Homo sapiens: one gene and its partner. The protein of the gene in region 1 purifies or fractionates together with the protein of each later gene. This does not show direct contact. Each region holds a gene or a part of one and is shown on either strand. Other genes may lie near its edges.

Region 1 (4,411 bases):
ATACAGAGCTTAGTGCTTACATCCTGCTACCAGTTACTCACACTTTAGTGTGAATGAATATATAAGGTGTGCTTTACTAACCACTAGCTGAGAAAGAAGGGAAGGTCTTATTTCCTTCAGGATGGGAACAGAAGACATATTTAGCAGACAGCATACTGTGCTGGGGGTGGGAGCCTTCTCTGAATGGGGTGTTTAATTGAGAGGCTCAGACAAAGGCACAGGTGTGAGGAGACAGGAGGGGAGTAATGAAAAAAGAGCAGGTCTTCACAGTTTGGCTGAAGTCAGCCTAGTTGCGGTTAATGAGTAAGGGTGGATAGATTCATCTACAGGAGGACTTGGTATGTGGTCACACCCTTAGGAAATGTCGAGAGTCGATGCAACCCAGGCTGTTGTTCCTGGCTTATTGTACAGATGAGACTGAGGATCGAAGAGAAGATGTATGTGACTTGTTCAGGGTCCCTGTGCTGGTTAGCTGGTGAGGGCCAGATTGGTTCATGTGTTATGTTTATTGAGTATCCACCCTGTGCTGGTTCTATCTGGGCACTGGGGCTGAGGGGATGGGCAGCCTCTCATAATCTCTGTGCAGGTGAGCCAAGTAATCTAGTTGAAGAGACGTATTCAACAAATAAACAGATCGTTATAAGCCATAGTGTTATAAAGAAAAGTGCAGTGTGCTATGGAGAGGATGATCGGAGAGCTGATTCAGATTGGGCTTGGGAGAGGAAGCAACAGATGTCTGCTGGAAAGTGACCCTTTGAGTGGATATCCAAATGATGATGGTGGGAGGTAGGGATATTGAGCAGTAGCTTTCCTGGCAGAGGGACAAAATAGTTTGTTTTAAGGCAGGTTTGACCTGTGTGTCCAGGGCTGTCCAGAGAATAAGAATGTTTGCTCTAAGGAACATGGATGCTCTGGTCAAATGAAGAACGTTTTCATCCATGCTTTGATGAAATAGACCTCAAACTCTCTGTGATCTTTGCTCTGATTTACATTCACAGAGTAACTTTTGAATGATTGATCAGGCCTCTCAGGCACTGCAGAACTTGAAAAGGTGTCCTGAAAGAGGACTCTCATATCAAATACATGGAGCCTGTACCTGTGGATCTGCAAGGATGAGGGTCAGACTGTGCACACAGTAATGGGAAACCCTAGGCGCCCTTCTCAGACAGCAGCCTGGGCGTCGCCAACTTTGGAAAATCCACACCAGGAGTAGTTGGTCAGACCACCACATTCCCTTTTATATCACTATGTGAATTCACATAGAGGGACAGAGGTCTACTTCTCCCATCACAGGGCTCCAGCACCTCAGCAGTGGCCAGAAGTCTCAACATTGACCTGGGTGACATGAACGCTCTTAATGTCAGGACATTCTAGATTTCAGTGTTCCACTGTCTCAATGTTGGCTTGATGCAAGACCTAAAATATGTCCATCTTTTAACCCTGTCTTGGCAGATGCTTACTAGATTTCTAAGAGCTTGTCAGCCTGAGTTACCTCCCTTCCCCAGTTGAAGTTTAGGGTGCCTGCTGGGTACCCACACAGGCAATGAGGTCTAGAGATTAAAGTTTGGGTTGGAATTCCAGATATATCACTGATTTTCCCTGCAACTTTGGTAGAAATGATTTAATCTCTTGTGCCTCAGTTTCCTCCTCTAAAAAGGGAGTTTCTAATAGTGCATAGGAATACTTACCACACAGAGGAGCTGTGAGAATTAAACCAGTTTATATAGGTAAAGTTTTAAGGAGCATTATGTGGTCACTACTAGCTTGTGTGAAACCTTCGAACAAATTAGAAAAAAAAAAAAAAAAAGGCATTGCCCTGCACAAAGTCCTCTGCGGGGTGCAAGGGGTTGGGGAGGGGGTGCAAGAGGAGCTGTTTGGATTTCAACACCTGCCAGCTTACATGTCTCCCCCTCTGCTCCTCAATCCCCATAATAATGTGGCACAGCCATAAAACATGGAGGCCTTTCTAGAACAGTGCCAGGCACAGAATGACAGCAAAATAATTAATGGCTAGAACTTCCACTGGTCCTGTTAAGCATATGAATTAATAATCCCTGGCTATATCAATTAAATATGGTTATAGTATACTTACAAACAAGAGTGAATGTACGGTTCCATTTTACTGCAAAGACTTTCCTAGAATGTTACGGAGCGTATACAATTTAATCTGGCAGAAGTCTTCTAGGTGTCCCTATCTCGCGGCCTACCCAATCCAAACAGGCGCCCTCGGCTTCCCATACCAGTGCGCGGCAGCAAGTCGGCTCTGGTGAGGGCACCCGGACGAAACGGGAGGGCAGACAGACTGACAATCACAGCTTGGGTTGAAAGGGGTGATATGGGGGTTGATATCCACCCGGAAGGTGGATGCACTGAGCAGCAGAGAGCAGGGAACCTGGGCAGAACGGACCGAAGAAGAGGGTCCGGGGAGGCATCCTGCCCTCTGCTCCGGGTGGGGAGGGAGGCTGGCAGCTCACCCCCGGGGGCGAGGGGTCTGCGTTAGCCGTAGCCACGGGAGCCCGGGCTTCTGGGACGCTCAGCCGTGCGCTACCCGGTGCAGCTGCTTTCTCACCAGCTCGCGGGTGGGTCCTGCCGCGGCTCGGCGACCCGCGCCCCCTTGCGAGCGACCCAGCGTGAAACCAGCCCAAAGGGCGGCCTCGCCCGACCCCCGCCAGCGCGACCTCCTCCGGGAGCCAGCACCCAGGACCGACGACCTCGGCAACTTACCCAGGACACTCTCCCTAGCTGTCCGCGGAGAAGCCGGCCTCGTCTGCCCCAGGCACCCGAGTCCCTGGCTCGGAGCTCAGTCAGGTTCAGGTGTTTATCCAGGCGCCGCCCAAGTCCAAGGGCGGGACTGCCGCGGCAGCGCCAGGGGTGGGGCCGGCCGTAGCCCCAGTGCGCGACGTGGGCAGCACTCCCATCTTCTTTTTCTGGACCTGCAGATTTAAGAAGCTGGAAATTCGGTGGTGGAAACTGGATGCGTGCGCCGGATTTCTCTTAGGCTTAACGTTTCAATGCCTAGGCTGTACCCTAGATTATTAGATGGGAATTTCTGGGTTGGTAGGGGCCTAGGCATTAGCTAGAAAAGTTTCCCAGGTATTTGCAAGGCACAACCCCGAGGTTGGGAACCCTGGAATTAGAGAACAGAGCAGTATAGGCGTCCACGGGGGAGGGGCCAGGTCGTGTGTCTGGAGCCTGCAGTGCGGGGAGTTCTCCAGCAGCATCTGACTGCTCCACATGGGATCTTAAGTCAACAGCTTCCTTGCCCCTTGGAGGTAAAGGATGTGGGCGTGGGCTCGGAAGTCCCCGGGAAGTGGGTGGGGTGCAGGCAGGGGCAGGAGTGGGTGCGGCGCTGGCAGGCGGCCTAGGAGAAGAGGGCGAGGAAATTTGTTCTAACAAGATGAAGCCGAGAAATGAGGCTAGCGTAAGAGTCACCAGGCACTCTGACCCAATCAAGATATATTAAGCATCTGGGTGTACAGCGATCCAGAAGATAACAGCGATGATATATCTGTCAAGAAAAAAAAAAAGGAAAAACATTCATTAATAAATCAATAAAAGAGTTAATATAAGCACAAGACACCACTGAGATGCTAATAATAGAGGGTGAACTTTTCTGGGGGCAATGAGGGGCAGAAATGACAATAAATTATGGGATGTTGAAAGAAAAACAGGGGAGTCATGATGAGATTGGGTTTGAAATTTATCCCGGGGCTGAGTAGGACAGGAAAAGTGGTGAGGGGTCGAAGAGCAGCCTTAGCCAGCCCATATCTGGGACAGGTCTGGAGTAGAGGAACTGCACATTTGTTCTTTATTTGGGTGACAGAAGAAACAGGCAGGTCGTATAAGCTTGGAAAAGTAGGTGCAGGGGAAACCCTCGACTGTCTTTTCAGTACTTAAGAGGTTACTTGTGTGCTTTAGGCAGCAGCAGCGAGCTGTGGCAAGCTATGCGAGGCGTGTGGGAAGGTGAGTGGGTAAATGTGCGTGCATTGGTTTCAAGTCAGCCGTCACCACACAGCGACACTGCTGTGTGGGGCTCTGGGGAGTTGCAGGGCTTCTGAGGGAGAAGGGAGACACATTCATAAACAGTGCGGGTGATAGACATGCACCCCAGGTGCTTCCAGAGTCCACAACCAGCCTGCAGGAGGAGAGGCAGTTGGACTCAAAGGGCCTTCCAGAATGGGCTAAGGTGTGGAGGTGAGCAGCACCTGGGAGTGAGAGTGGACTGAGGCAGAGAGACGTCGGGTAATGGGCCCTTGATGGTGCAGCCTGCCTGCAAGAGTTCAGATGAGTGGACACTGGGAAACACCAGCCTCCTATTATCTTCATGGCTTCTCTGAGCAGAATCCTAGGCTGTCACTCTTCTTTCTGGTCAGAAGCCCTGGGTGGACCTCAAGAAAGAAATTTGGAGCAT
Region 2 (3,809 bases), on another chromosome or scaffold:
ACTGAGCAGGCTTAGCCTGGAGCAGAGCAGCCAAGCAGCAAGACTGGCCCACTGCACCATCCAAAGGACCACCGTGTAAAAGAAAGCAGAGTACAGAGTTGCATATCAGGTGGAGTGCGGTGGCTCACGCCTGTAATCCCAGAACTTTGAGAGGCTGAGGTGAGCGGATCACCTGAGATCAGGATTTCTAGATCAGCCTGGCCAACATGGTGAAACCCCATCTCTACTAAAAATGAGCTGGGCGTGTTGGCATGTGCCTGTAGTCCCAGCTACTTGGGAGGCTGAGGCAGGAGGATTGCTTGAACACAGGAGGTGGAGGCTGCAGTGAGTGAGCCAAGATCATGCCATTGCACTCCAACCTGGGCGACAGAGTGAGACTTCATCTCAAAAAAAAAAATGAGTTGCATATCAGAGAGAGGTCAGAGCAGGAGCAGGGGGTGAAAATCACATGGAGGCTGGTTGGAGTAGGTGAGATGAAGCTTTTCATTGATCACAGGTGTCTAAGAATGCAACTGTTGCCTTCAGGGGCAGTGAGCTCCTTGGCAAGAGGCTTTCAAGCAGAAGTTGGGTATGTTGAAAGGGAGATTCCTGGGAGTTTGGACCAGAGGCCCGGGAGGTATTGTTTCCGTGACAGGCTTCCGGTGTGCACATTGAGAAGTCCCTCATCCTTGTGTAAGAACAAGCTAAAGTGTGTGCTGAGTAGGGATGTGTGTCTTAGCCTGTGCCTGGCACTCTGCCACCCTAGTCATGCACCCAACACTGAGCCAGGCACTGAGAAGGAAACAAAGAAAGGAGGAGGAGAGAGGCCAAAAAAACCCCAAGCGACCTCAAGCCCCTGCTAGAGACAGGAACAAATGCTGGTTCCTGCAGGACCCTGAGGCCCACACACCAGTGCTATAGCTAAAATGGACGATCTGTCCTCTGATCAGCCCCAGTCTAGGCCTGACCTGCTCCCAAATGGTTCAGACCCTAACCCTGGGCCTACCCTGTCTGGGGAAACTGAGGCTGTGTGCAAGCCCAGCCCAGCAGTGCTGCCACCACCACCAACCCCAGACCCGCCACCGCCCAGCCTTTTCCCCTGCCTCCTGCCCACTCCATGAAGGGTATGTGGGGGCAGGAGGCCCTTGGGAATCACTTCTCTTGGCCCTCCCTCACCTGGTCTAGGCCAAGCTGCCTACATGGGAAGGAGAAGGTAAAACCCAGTGGGAGGCTCTGCCCGCTCAGGCCCTGCTTCTGCTGGAAGTCCACGATGCAGTCCACGATGTGGTCAAAGAGCTGTGGGGCAGGACAGGTCAGGCGTAGGCACTGCTCAGCCCTTCCCCACCTCTGACATCAAGGTTCAGGCTGTGGGTACCTGCTGCCCAGAACCCTGGGCCACAGTCTCGGGAATGGAGTAGATCTCGCTGGTGATCTGCACGCCTGTGGTCACACGTACCAGGAGGACACGGAAGTTCGTGCCCCCGAGGTCCAGGGCCAGGAAATCCCCTCGCTCTGTGGGGGCAGAGACCCTCAGTGCCGGGATAGGGCTTGTGGCTCCAGCCCCAGCACACACTGGGACCCCCAGGAGCCCATGTTTCGGTCCCACACTCAGGCCAGGTCCTTACCGCTGCCGTCAGGGGTGGCCCGGACGAAAGTGGGCAGCATGCGAAGGGAGGAGGCCTCCCCTCGGAGCCCCTTGGCCATGGCCTTCCGCATCTGTGCCTGAACCGCAGCCAGTTGATCATGGTTCAACCGGAATGGGGCCAGGGTCTCCTCCAGCAGGCGCCGGTGGGCAGCCAGACGGGCAGCCACGGCAGTCACCATCGCCACTCCCCGGCCACCACCATCCACAGAGGGGATTAAGGAGACATCGCATTCCGGGGCCAGGAGCATCACTGTCCCCTGCAGGACGCTGCAGAACCTACAGATACATACAGGTGCACCCGGCTTGGCCCTGGACCCCCAGACACACACAGGTGTGCACGGCTTGGCCCTGGACCCCCAGATACATACAGGTGTGCCCAGCTTGGCCCCAGACCCCTAGGGCCTCCTGAAGCCCAAGGCCCCATCACTTTTTTTTTTTTATTTTTGTAGATATCGAGTCTTGCTCTCTCACCCAAGCTAGAGTGCCACGGAGTGATCATGGCTTACTGTAACCTCAAACTCCCAGGCTCCAATGATCCTCCCACCTCAGCCTCCCAGTGTTGAGATTACAGGCGTGTACCACCATAGCCAGCCTCCCCTATCACTTCAATTTGAAATCTGTTCTGTGCACCAGCCATACGCCCCCGTGTCGCCATGGCCTCCACCCTTGCACACACAAAGGGAAGCATCGTTTCTCTCCTTGGATGTCTTCTGGCCTCCCATAGCTCAGTCTGGCCCTCCCTCTGCCTAAGTGCCCTTCGTGTCCACTGGCTTGCACATGTGATCCCAGAGGGCCCTCTGGGTGTGTATCACACACACGTGTTCATGCCAACTAATCATGCGGATCACGTTTCCACAATACCTGGGGTGCCGCTCACACACTCGGCCTCCGGTGGCCACAGCAACCTGGAGTGTTTGTTGCTCCCGGCTGTGCTGGAGGCAGGAGAGAACAGCGGCCAGGGCGGCAGCACAGAGCTGGGCAGCCCGCGTGCACACGGCCGCACAGACGTGCTGCACAAGCTCAACATCCGAAGCCCCAGGGCTCAGGCCCAAGTCCTGCAGGATAGCATGGACACGGGCTGCCCCAGTAGAGGGGCTGGAGGGGAAAGGGAAGTGGTTTGGGGCTCAGCCCAGAAGCTCCCCATCCCACTAAAGCCCCATGGCTACCTTGGGAACAGAGTATCATCCCCTTCCTCCAAGCCAAGAATCCCCCACTAAACCACCATCTCCCCGACTCACTCCTCCATCTCAGCCACGTGTTCCAGGAGGATGCTGCCTTGGCTCAGCAGGGCAGGGGAGGTGCAGCCACCAAAGAGGACCCCACACCGGGCCAAGTGAGCCAGCACCAGCCGCACCAGCTCACCCAGGTACAGGCCTCCGATCATCTTCTCAAACCTGCAGGGGGGAAGGGTGGCTGGAGGAAGCCTTTTCTAAGCCCTCAGTCCACCTGGCCCTACCTCCAAGAGTTCCCAAAGAAGGATTCTTTTCTTTGGGGCTCCCAAACTGGAGACTCCAGAAGCAACGAATAGCCTCCCAGAGGACAGGTGGGTGTATGCCCAGACCCCACTGCCCCCTCTGACATAGGTTACATTCAGAAGCCTCCTGGAGAACAAGAAGGACCCAAAGGAAGGCAGAGAGCAGTTTGCTCAACCACTTCCAGCCCTCAACCCCCAAACTGTCAGGGCAGGCCAGAGTCAGGAACAGGGAAGATCAAGGGTTGACAATTCTGGATTCTAGAACTTTGGGCCCTTCCTTCTTTGAACCTGGCCAGGGCCCCCAGGTTGCTCCCTGGAGACCCTCAGAGTGACAGGGAGGGGCCTAAGGGCCTGAGAACAGGGACAGAAGGGGTTGGGAGCAGAGCAGTCATAGACAGGGCCTGGAACCAAAGGTCAGGGCCCCCTGCCAGGTCACCTCTGAGCACCAGGATTCAGGGACTCATGGTCCAGGGTATGGTCGAAGGTGGTCAGCACTGGTCCCAGCGCCCCATCATCGCTGAAGGAGCCCCACTCGACGCTGACGCAGACGCGGCCCCGGTCTTCGTCCAGCACTGCCACATGCCGTGCCTCCTCCATGTAACACGCGTTGGTGCCCGTGTCTGGCAGAGACAACCCTGTCAAGGCCTGCTAGCCAGGCAGCACACCCTCCACCTGTCATCACAAATGGTCCATGGCTCACCTACAACTAGC

What was found.
Region 2: the proteins of SDR16C5 (region 1) and HK3 purify together in Homo sapiens (affinity purification with mass spectrometry; one large-scale study listed by BioGRID and IntAct). This does not show direct contact.

The regions. Positions count from the first base shown.
Region 1 is NC_000008.11:56,317,335-56,321,745, forward strand, and holds the start of SDR16C5 (epidermal retinol dehydrogenase 2), read right to left. Parts: upstream 2,842-4,411; 5' UTR 2,725-2,841; intron 1-2,724. UniProt on the Homo sapiens protein: Oxidoreductase with strong preference for NAD. Active in both the oxidative and reductive directions. Oxidizes all-trans-retinol in all-trans-retinaldehyde.
Region 2 is NC_000005.10:176,885,847-176,889,655, forward strand, and holds part of HK3 (hexokinase-3), read right to left. Parts: coding exon 3,799-3,809; intron 3,719-3,798; coding exon 3,535-3,718; intron 3,019-3,534; coding exon 2,863-3,018; intron 2,720-2,862; coding exon 2,486-2,719; intron 1,901-2,485; coding exon 1,605-1,900; intron 1,492-1,604; coding exon 1,355-1,491; intron 1,276-1,354; coding exon 1,156-1,275; intron 52-1,155; coding exon of another isoform or gene 1-51. UniProt on the Homo sapiens protein: Catalyzes the phosphorylation of hexose, such as D-glucose and D-fructose, to hexose 6-phosphate (D-glucose 6-phosphate and D-fructose 6-phosphate, respectively).